Linked DNA regions of Homo sapiens: region 1 is linked to region 2. A link means that fine-mapping ties the variant in region 2 to the expression of a gene that starts in the linked region. Tissue or cell type: cerebellum. Region 2 holds a variant in brackets; the other region holds the start of a gene. All regions are shown on one strand. Distances are from middle to middle.

Region 1 (5,600 bases), 780 kb after region 2:
GACACATAACTCTGTGAAGGAAGACCAGAGAAGGAAAGTAAACTTCAGAGGCAAGAGTGTAGGAGTAGAGCAGAGAGGTGAACAGAAGTTAAATTCTAACTACTGCTCTTGAGAGGCAGTATTCTGAGGAGATGATCCTGTCCTGTAAGTGAAGTGATTTTACTTACATTTCAGCATTAAAGAGGCTTTACTTTACATTTTTCCTTATTTTTAAAAATAGTAATATATTCACTTGGTTCAAAATTTAAAATTATAAAATGTATACTGTGTAAAGTTTCCTTCTCCGTTAGCTTCTTATCTATCTTTCCAGTTATTTCTGCATATGTGTGTACATATATTGTTTTCTAGTTCCCTTTTTTTCACAAATGGTAGGACACCATGAATGACGTGGTACATTTTCCTCTTCTCAATAATATGTCTTAGAGATCTTTCCTGTCAATACACAGCCCCTCTCCGCATTTTTATGGATGCATAGATGTATCATAATTTATTCATGCCAGCACTGATGGAATGTTTGGGTAGTTTTCAATCATTTCTTATTACCAACAATATAATCATGAATAATCTTGGGCATACATCAGTTTGGATGTGTGTAGGCATATATAAGAAAAATTCCTTGAATCAGAATTGCTGAGTTAAAAGGTATATACATGTATAATTTTGATATTGCCAATTTGACCTCACTAGGATTGAACCAATTTATAATTTATACTCCCATCAGAAACAGCTGTATGGGAGTGCCTTTCCTCACTTTCACCAATATGTTTCTCAAAGTTTGTGCTCTTCGCCAAATTTTTGACTTGCATTTTGAACGAATTAATATAGAGTCATTTGTATATTTTTTAAAGTAACTATTCATATATTTTGCCCATGTTTCCATTGAGGTGTTGGGTCTTGTTAATTTGTACACACTTTTATCACAGGAAAATTAGTCCTTTGTTTACAATGGCAGCTGCAAATTTTTCTCAGTTTGTCAAGTGTCTTTGTGACTATATATGCCATGTGACTTTGCTTAAAGTGTTTTTTGCCATGCAGTCAATCTTTTACGACTTCTGGGTACTGTACCACAATTAGAAAGACCTTTTTCACTCTGAGCATGAAGAGAGTCTTAAGTGGTGTCAGGACTCTATTAGTGAGAAATGGTGGGGGTGGGAGGGCTGGATATCAAGAAAGGTCAGTTAGGTTTTTCTAATAGTCTAAACACATGACTTAAGTTCTAAACGAAGTAGGGATAAGGCAATTGAGAAAAACTTGGTAGTCCTTGGTAACTGATCTGGGGGTGATGGAAAGGAATTTTTAAAAAGAATTTTGAATAATTTTCAAATAACATAAAAATAACAAATTCTTAAACATACATTTTATTAGCTTCTCACAAAAGGTTTTCAAAGCAGAAGTTAAAAAAAACAAAAGGATCAGAGGAGCGAATCCACTCAAGGCCACTTAGCTAACTGAGACATGGGAGCAAATTCTGAATTCAGGGATTCTAATTCCAGAAGTCCAAAACAATTCCATCTACGAAGAAACTTATGAAACCCAAACAACCCAAACTGTTCTAAAACAACAGTTTCCAAACACCAGTCCACGACAAAGCTTTAATCTGGTAAGCTGCAAAAAGAGAAAACCAGTAACAATCGTCGCTGACAGGTTGGCAATGAGTGTGTGTGTGTGTGTGTGTGTGTGTGTGTGTGTGTGCGCGCGCGCGCGCAAAGGCCAGCATTTATTCTGAGTTTACGGTCTTAGTACTTTGTGTTAAAATGTATTGCCTGAAGTAATGTTGGTATGGGTGGTTTCAAGTTTGAGTTTTTCAAGTTTGATTTTTAAATACCATTATATTACAAAACTAAAAGACTAAAAAAGCTAAAATCGTTCCACCCCTTAAAACAAACAAACAAAAAAATCCGTCCTCAAGAGTCTGGGCGCCACCGGTAATAGGGAAACCTCAGAATGTTTCTGTGGATTAGCCTCAGACAAGACTGAGGAAGAGCAGAAAGGCCTGAGCTGGGGGAGCAGGCTACTGAGGCAGCTCTTCTCAAAGCGCCAGCAGAGTCCGTTAGACAGGAGCACCGGTCCACAAACACACACAGACTCGGAGCTGCTGTCCTCAGTACTTCCCTCGGGCCGGCTGCCTGCCCAGCCGAGGCCACGACGTCGAACCCCAACACGAAGCTGGCGACGGACCATGCCGGGGGTCAGGGCCCGGGAGAGGCTACCGAGGGCTGTGCAGTCCCAGCAAGCTCAGGCCCGCGTCCCGGGCCGCCTTCCCTGCACGCCCACCCGCCCCCGAGCCCACCCCGCTCACCGGGGGCTCCCGCTGCGGCTCCAGCCTTGCGTACCGCCGCCTCGGCGCCAGGCCGCTAGGAGATGACACAGGAACGAGCCCTTCCGGCAGCCGAGGCACAGAATAATGGCCGAGCCGAGAATACTGCGACTTCCGGTTGCACCCCGCCCCTCATCCCGGATCTCTAGGAAGCCACATCTCTATGGTTCGTTTCTTTTCCCAGAACTGGGGAAGAGAGGCGGAACTCCTGAGCCCTTGGGTACTAGTGTTCCTTACATCGAACAAGAACTGGCCGCTGTTTCAGACCGGAAGGGTGCAGAGATGAAAGACAGGACCCAGGGTCTCAGGATGCCTGTTGCCTCCTAAGAGAGTTGGACATTTCTATTTTGATTTGCATTTCAATTGAGGTTGATAGGGAGTGACCTTCACGTCTGAATGACCTGGTAGGTGACTTTTCTGGTCTCTTCTTGAACTTATGCAATTCTCACTATAAATAATAACATGACTTATAAATCACCCTCTTGTGAATTCGCTTACTGTGGTGTATCTCTTGCCCACATGATGACATATTGGAGCTATGATATTAAATAATAATCAAGTTGATGGTGCAAGGTAATGTGCAAATGGTAGGGACATCTCTCCCCTGAAAGAAGAGGTTATTCTAGCTGTCCATCGCCCTGGGTAAAGTCAGGTGTATATAAAGGAAACTGGCACTCTGATCCTCTCTTTGGTCTTCAGTCTCTTAAGTTTGGACTTCTGGAACTGACACCCCTATATGGGACTATGGCTGAAACAAGTCTCCAAAAGGGCAAAGGCCATGTCTGCATGGATCCCATGTATTTAGCACCTAGTACAAAGCTGAAGCCATATAGGTTGTAGATGAATGTTTATTCAATGAGCAAGGTTCATGTTATTCTGTTTATGTCTTTTTTTTTTTTTTGAGATGGAGTTTTGCTCTTGTTGCCCAGGCTGGAGTGCAGTGGCGCAATCTTGGCTCACTGCAATCTCCACCTCCCGGGTTCAAGCGATTCTTCTGCCTCAGCCTCCTGAGCAGCTGGGATTACAGGCACGTGCCACCATGCCTGGCTATTTTTTTTTTTTTTTTTTTTTTTTAGTAGAGACGGGGTTTCACAATGTTGGCCAGGCTGGTCTTGAACTCCTGACCTCAGGTGATCCACCCCCACCTTGGCCTTCTAAAGTGTTGGAATCACAGGCGTGAGCCACCGTGCCAGGCTTATTCTGTTTATTTCTTTATGTTCTCTCCTGGCATTCATTAAACAACATACTTAAACTTCAGCCTTGATTCATTCATTCATTCAACTACTGAGTACTTGCCATATGCCAAATACTGTTCTGGGCACTAGGGACATAGATAAAGAGGTAAAGTCTCTGTTCTCATGGGGCTTACATTTCTAGTGGGATAAACAGAAAACAAATATAAAAATGTGTCAGGTGGTGGTAAATGCTAAGAAATGTGAAAGCTGATCATAAGAATTGGGTCATTTTTGTCATACCTAATAAAAGAAAGTCGAGAAATTAGCTGGGGGAAGCACTCAGGGTACACAACATTGCTCCAGGAATGTTATTCTCTGTAAGCTTGACTGCTGAAACTGCTTATTATAAGCCAAAACCAGTTTTATCTATAGCTTCTGAGATAAGTTGCTGCAACTCTAGGACTAATTTTGCCCACCGCAGTTGCTCACCAACTGGAGCTTGTCAGCTCCCCACACCCTTACTACTGCCAATGAACTTTCTCAAAGAGCAATATGTAACATTCCTCCTTTTTGTAAAACCTCTAACCTTCTCTTTGTTCTTCAGAGAGAGCACCACTTTCAGTTCAAGCCAGAGACTATCTCTCCGAGTTTGTAAACTGATGTTGTGAATAAAACTTTCTTTTCTTTCTTTCTTTCTTTTTTTTTTTTTTTTTTTTGAGATGGAGTCTCACTCTGTCGCCCAGGCTGGAGTGCAGTGGCGCGATCTCGCTCACTGCAACCTCCGCCTCCCGGGTTCAAATGATTCTCCTGTCTCAGATTCCTGAGTAGCTGGGATTACAAGCGCACGCCACCATGCCTGGCTAATTTTTTGTATTTTAGTAGAGATGGGGTTTCACCGTGTTGCCCAGGCTGGTCTCAAACTCCTGAGCTCAGGCAATCCACCCGCCTCGGCCTTCCAAAGTGCTAGGATTACAGGTGTGAGCCACTGTGCCGGCCAACTTTCTTTTCTACTATCTAGCCATCCTGGTGGTCCTTTGGATGACATAAAAAAGGGTAAGGAGGACCCAACAAAGGAGACTGAGAAGCAGCAGCCAATCAAGTAGGAAGAGAAGAAGGAAATAGTACTTTATGGGTCTCAAAGTATGAATGAGTAGATTTTGAAATATTGATCAATGTGATTGCTGTTCCCCCCACACTAAATTATAATTTTACTTGTAAACCAAGGCTCCCTTCTCCTCCCCTGCCCTACCTAGGTAGACAGGAGTTACACACTATGGGACTGGAAACAAAAGTGACAAAAACGATAGTGAGTTAGGCCATTAGAAGCCTTTAGTAAGGTGAAAAACATTCTTGCCTTGCTGGGAAAGAAGAAAGGAATGGGAGGAGCCAAAATGACCAACTAGACTATGGACCACTGACCAGTGAGCCTGTAATCATTCACACTCCTACTAAGCAATGGCCCGGAAGCATGTAACCAAAGAGTTGTCAGCTGGTAAGAACCACCAGTTGCCAGTGGCCAGCCCAGAGCCTCAGTTTTGTCACTCAGTTTGTGCCCTGAGATTCTGCCCATCTGACAAAGAACTTGAAGCACCCTCACCACTGTCCCAAGATGAAAGACTTGGTAACCTTGTGGAATGATGGTGATAGGAAAGGAACACCCTATCTTTGACCAAGGTGGAACTATACAAAACCTGTTTAAAGTGGGCCAGAGCTCTGGGACAGTGGTATAATACAACACATAGCCTTTGTTTTACATACACACACATTCCTGGTATTTAAAATCCCCAAATGTACTGGTGAAAAAAACTAAGCAAACAAGAAATAAATGAGTTTGAGATAGGCATATGAGAAGAGGCTGGAAGCACAGGACTGACATTTCAAGATGGGTTAAGATCTTAGACTACTGATCAACTAAAATGGAAATCCCGGTCTGAATGGAAAGTTTGTATTTCTCATCTTTCTATAAAACCCCACTTTGCCAGAGTTGTTTTTAATGCAAATTGGAATGTGATTGACCTATGACCAAGGATTATATGTATATAATATATATGGCTAAGAAATCTCAAGACATGCAATCTGAAGACCCAGGAGAGCTGAAGGTATAGTTG
Region 2 (5,600 bases):
CTGTTTGGCAGGCCCAGATTAGATATTCCTTCCCTGCTTAGAGTGAGGATCGTTAAACTTGAGTCCAAGTTTATTCAATCTCAGGGACCAATCCTGACACTGGGCAGGAAAGATTTTAAAATGACAAGGAAGCTCAACAGACTTTCTTTCACATCACTGACAATGAAACCAAGATTTGTTTCTCTTTTCCCACATCACTTAAAAATGACCAGACAAGTTTTCACCAGATTTGGTGGTTGTATCTGAGATGCTGTGACTTAAATATGAACTATGAAAATTAATAAGAAATTAATTTCAGGAGAACCTAGAGAACACCCTGAAAAGAGGGCTTGCTATCTTAAACACAGCAACTGAAACTGTGAAACAAAAAGACAACCTTAGGTATCTGCTGATCACACAGACTAAGAAACCATCAACCAAATAACAAATAGTGGTTTCAACCATAAGCAAATCAAGCCACAGGATGGATAATATGAATTACAAGATTCATTTATTAAATGGTGACGAATCACCTTCCTAAGCAGCTCTGAGGAATAAGATCAGTATAAATAATAATTACAGCTGTCACTTATTATGGGATTATTATGTGCCAGATACAAGCACTATCTCATCTAATCCTCATAACCCTGTGAGGAATAAAGTATTGTTATCCCTATGTTAAAGATTAAGAAAGTGGGATACAGGGACATTAAATGACTCTGTAGAGTCGCTTGGCTAGAAAGTGGTAGGTTCAAATCTAGGTTGTTCAATTTCTGGGTCTAGCCTGACCTTAGGCTTCAGATATGGTAGGAGGACTCCTTGTCTTTTGGGCCTGAGCTGCCTGCAAGGGTACCAGTTCCTTTGGGCCTGGAGCTCTGCCTTGAGCCTCCTCTGTAACATCTCATCCCATCCAAGGAAATTAGAATCCCACCTACAAGCCCCTCAACCACCTGTTTTGCTAACAGGCTTCCCTGCACCCTATCATAAATGTACAGTTGCTATAAAAGCTTAACTGTCCCAAGGCGGGCGGATCATCTGAGGTCAGGAGTTCGAGACCAGCCTGACCAACATGGTGAAACCCCGTCTCTAATTAAATACAAAAATTAGCTGAGTGTGGTGGTGGGTGCCTGTAATCTCAGCTACTTGGAAGGCTGAGGCAGGAGAATTGCTTGAACCCAGGAGGCAGAGGTTGCAGTGAGCTGAGATCGCACCATTGCACTCCAGCCTGGGCAACAAGAGCGAAGATCCGCCTCAAAAAACAAACAAAAAAAAGCTTAATTGTAGGCAATTTGCCTGCACTCACTAATTGTCCGAAATAAGTTGGCCTAAGTTAAAAAAAATTTAGACAAATCTAATTAAAGAATCACAACTAGATTCTTTATCACAGTGAGATAAAGAATTGTCTTTATCTTTATCTTTAGGCAAAGAGCCAATTCATTCTGTCCCACATCTTTCTTTTTTTTTTTTTTTTTTTGTCTTTGGAGACGGAGTTTCGCTCTTGTTGCCCAGGCTGGAGTGCAATGGCATGATCTTGGCTCACTGCAACCTCTGCCTCCCGGGTTCAAGCAATTCTCCTGCCTCAGCCTCCCGAGTAGCTCAGATTACAAGCACGGGCCACCATGCCTGGCTAATTTTGTATTTTTAGTAGAGATGGGGTTTCTCCATGTTGGTCAGGCTGGTCTTGACCTCCCGACCTCAGGTGATCTGCCCACTTCGGCCTCCCAAAGTGCTGGGATTACAGGCATGAGCCACCATGCCTGGCCTGTCCCACCTCTTTCTAATAAACATAGCAGAAATAATGAAAAACAGTTATCTGGGAAAAATAACATCTGACAAAAACCAGAGAGACAAACACCCTCAGCCATCTTAAAGTGGAACACAAATCTCTGAATTTGGTAGTATAAAGTTATTTAACTCTTCAAGTGACAAAGACATTACAACGTGACCCTCTTTTAGGAATACTTCTTGCAGCCAATGTCAGCTCAGCATAAAATTTCAAACCAGTTATGACAATGGATGTACTTACCTTGCTAAAATAAAATAGAAAGAACTGAGAGGCAGCAGATATCATTTGTATAGGCCCTGACAGGTTCATAGTAGCAATGGCCACTGGGGTTCCAGTAAATGTTTAATTAACAATTGGCTCTCTGGAGGAAAAGGCCATGATTTGTAGGTTTGCTGATTACCATGACGTAAATACTCCCTCAATGGCAGATTTCAAGCTGCCAAGGTGACTAATAAACACAACATTGGGCAGAGATATACATAGTTGGCTCTCAGGTGCTGGTGTGTGCAGGTTCCTGTCCACTGCTGGCAATTGCTAATACTTATTGGTTACATACTGTGTGTTAGGTATCTAAGTGCTTCATAGTCATCCTCTTTGAATCCTTTTAACAGGCCAATGGGGCAGGTACTATTTTATCCCTATTTTATAGATGAGAGAAAACAAGGTGTTGAAGAGGTTAATTAATTAACTACTCAAAGGCCACACAGCTTGTAAGTATTAAGAGCTGGAATTTGAATCCTGGCAGTTTGGTTCAATGGGCCATGCTCTCAGCCCTTCTTGAATACTGCCATATTTCGTAGGTGGATAAAGAAGATATTATGATTATCCAACACCCATCTTAAAGATGATGTGTTGCTAAAGATTGCTAGTAAAGATTAGGCTCTGGGCTAGGTGCGGTAGCTCATATCTATAATCCTAGCACCTTGGGAGGCTGAGGTGGGTGGATTGCTTGAGCCCAGGGGTTCAAGACATGCCTGAACAACATGGTGAAACCCTGTCTCTACAAAAATTACAAAAAATTAGCTGAGCGTGGTGGCACACACCTATAGTCCCAGCTACTTGGGAGACAGAGTCGGAAGTTGAGCCTGGGAGGTCGAGGCTGCAATGAACTGTGATTGCAACCACAGCACTCCAGCCGGGGTGACAAAATGAGACCCTGTCTCAAAAAAATTTTTTTAAAAAGCAGGCGGGGGGTAAAGAGGAATGGCCCACATCAGCCAAGGAAGGG[C/T]GTTTGTCCTCCTCTCTCACAATAAATTTCACCTCATTCTTCAAGGCCCATATCAGATTCTTTTTTTTTTAAGATAGTGTCTCACTCTGTTGCCCAGGCTGGAGTGTAGTGACACAATTACAACTCACTGCAGCCTTGACCTCCCAGGTTCATGTGATTCTCCCACCTCAGCCTCCTGAGTAGCTGGGACTACAGGTGTGTGCCACCACACTGAGCTAATTTTTTGTATTTTTTGTGGAGACAGGGTTTTGCTACATTGCTCAGGCTGGTCTCGAACTCCTGGGCTCAAGTAATCCTCCTGCCTGGGCCTCCCAAAGCACTGGAATTACAGGCATGAGCCAGGTGCCCAGACCAGATGTTCCTTCTTTAGTGGCACTTTCCCCAACTCCCCAGAGTTGTTACTCCCCAAATATCTTTTCTTAAAAAAATTATTTTTTTCCATTAGAAAATAAATACATGCTCTGCCGGGCATGGTGGCTCACACCTGTAATCACAGCACTTTGGGAGGCCAAGGTGGGCGGATCACGAGGCCAGGAAATCAAGACCATCCTGGCTAACACAGTGAAACCGTCTCTACTAAAAATACAAAAAATTAGCCAGGCGTGGTGGTGGGCACCTGTAGTCCCAGCTACTCGGGAGGCTGAGGCAGGAGAATGGCGTGAACCCGGGAGGGGGAGGTTGCAGTGAGCCGAGACTGCGTCACTGCACTCCAGCCTGGGCGACAGAGCAAGACTCCGCCTCAAAAAAAAAAGAAAAGAAATACATGCTCAAAGAATATGGAAAATATCAAATAGAACAGAAAGAAATATCTTGCAGTCTCACCTGCCACTCATAGCACTGATGTGTATTTGTACTGTTGACCTCAGTTCGTTATATACAATGATTCTCTACTCATGGGTGAGTATCTCCTGGGAAGATTATCAGTGTTATCCACATTTGTATCTACCTTTCACCCCATTCCCATCTGATCTCCACCCCAGCACAACACCCAACTCATGGCTGCCCCCCAATTAACCTAGATGCTTTATTATAATATCATCTAATCCATAAAAGGAAACACTGAGCTTTTCATGTCCATCTTCAAAGCTGTCCTAATCTTAACTAAAGTTGGTTTTCTTCATTTGTCTTGAACACATATTACTACATGCCAACCCTGCGTGTGGCAGACAAGGGCTGCTCCAGCAGGCACCTGTTCTTACCTGCATCCCTCTCATCTTCTGGAACCGTGCTATGGTGTCGCTGATGGTGTAGACACGCACATGGCCCATGTGCAGCTTACCAGAAGGATAAGGGAACATGGAAAGCACGTAAAATTTTGGCTTCGATTTCTAGGAAAGAACGACAATGAGTATTTATTAAGCATTTTCTGGGAACTCTGCATGTATACATAATATTTTGGCATTTTACACAAAGTAATAATTTAACATTTTAAAAGTTTCCTTTTAAAAAGAGTGTTCCCAGAATGTAAATCAATTAAAATGTCAAAAAGCAAAATTCAAAGCCCTGGTTTAAGCTAAAGAATGTCCAAAATAATGCCAAACAACCTCTAAGTGTTAAGTACCCATATATCTTTTTTTTTTCTCTTTTAAAAACTTATTTTTTGAAAGGAATGAATTAACAGTATTTGCAGTGACCTGGGTGAGATTGGAGACTATTATTCTAAATGAAGTAACTCAGGAATGGAAAACCAAACATCTTATGTTCTCACTGATATGTGGGAGCTAAGCTATGAGGCATAAGAATGATACAATGGACTTTGGGGACTTTGGGGGAAGGGTGGAAAGGGGGGTGAAGGATAAAAGACTACAAATAGAGTACAGCCTATACTGCTCGGGTGAGGGGTGCACCAAAATCTCACAAATCACCACTAAATAACTTACTCATGTAACCAAATACCACCTGTACCCCAAAAACCTATGGAAAAAAAAAAGAAAGAAAGAAAAGCGGTCCCAATGCAGACCCGAAGAGAGGGTTCTTGGATCTCACGCAAGAAAGAATTCAGCGCCAGTCTGTAGAAGAAAGCGAAAGCAAGATTATTAGGAAAGTAAAGGGATAAAAGAATGGCTACTCCATTAAAAAAACAAAACAAAACAAAACAAAACAAAAAAACACTTCTCTTTTAAGACAGCTTCTATCTAGGTCCTTAAAGAACTGTTTGTTTTTCCGAAGGAAGCTCTAACATACATATATCCATATAATTCAAAGAAGCAATAGTTGAATCACATAGATGTAACATCTCTAAAAATGGAGTCTCTTCCTAAATTCTCTATAGCTGCATTCTGACGTAGGTTTAGCAGTAATAACAGGATCCTAAAGTACCAATTTGGGTCCTGAGTTTCCCCATTGTATTGAGAGCCTATCTTTCAACAAAAATGTTGAAATGGGAAGGTAATGAGAAGATCCTTTTAAAAAGGGAGAAGGTTGTTGTTCTCCAGGGATGATAAATAAGCAGCCTCAGACCAGGGTTATATAACTCTCCAGCTTCCAAAGAAGCAGCTTCATCATGAGAAACATAGACAACTGTACATGTATCTGAACAGAAGGAACACAGGCCAATGAGTCCTTATTGGATCACTGACTTCTGGCATCTTAATTCTTCCCCTGGTA

Evidence for each region. PIP is the estimated chance that this variant, and not a neighbour inherited with it, causes the effect.
Region 1: it holds the start of ZNF197, and the variant in region 2 is fine-mapped to the expression of ZNF197 in cerebellum (GTEx, PIP 0.97).

Annotation. Positions count from the first base shown.
Region 1 is chr3:44,621,843-44,627,442 of GRCh38, reverse strand. ZNF197 (zinc finger protein 197) reads right to left here and starts at 2,407. Exons shown (of 6, transcript NM_006991.5): 1 at 2,300-2,407. All of the region lies in intron 2 of ZNF660-ZNF197 (ZNF660-ZNF197 readthrough), which reads right to left. All of the region lies in intron 2 of ZKSCAN7-AS1 (ZKSCAN7 ZNF cluster antisense RNA 1), which reads left to right. It overlaps ZNF197-AS1 (ZNF197 antisense RNA 1), which reads left to right and starts at 2,646. Exons shown (of 2, transcript NR_046658.1): 1 at 2,646-2,721. RefSeq lists an enhancer at 1,572-2,074 and a silencer at 2,054-2,403.
Region 2 is chr3:45,398,966-45,404,565 of GRCh38, reverse strand. LARS2 (leucyl-tRNA synthetase 2, mitochondrial) reads right to left here. Exons shown (of 22, transcript NM_015340.4): 4 at 4,193-4,321. Among named protein-coding and RNA genes, the nearest start is that of LARS2, 13 kb to the right of the region's middle. The variant C/T (reference allele first, on the strand shown) is at 2,994.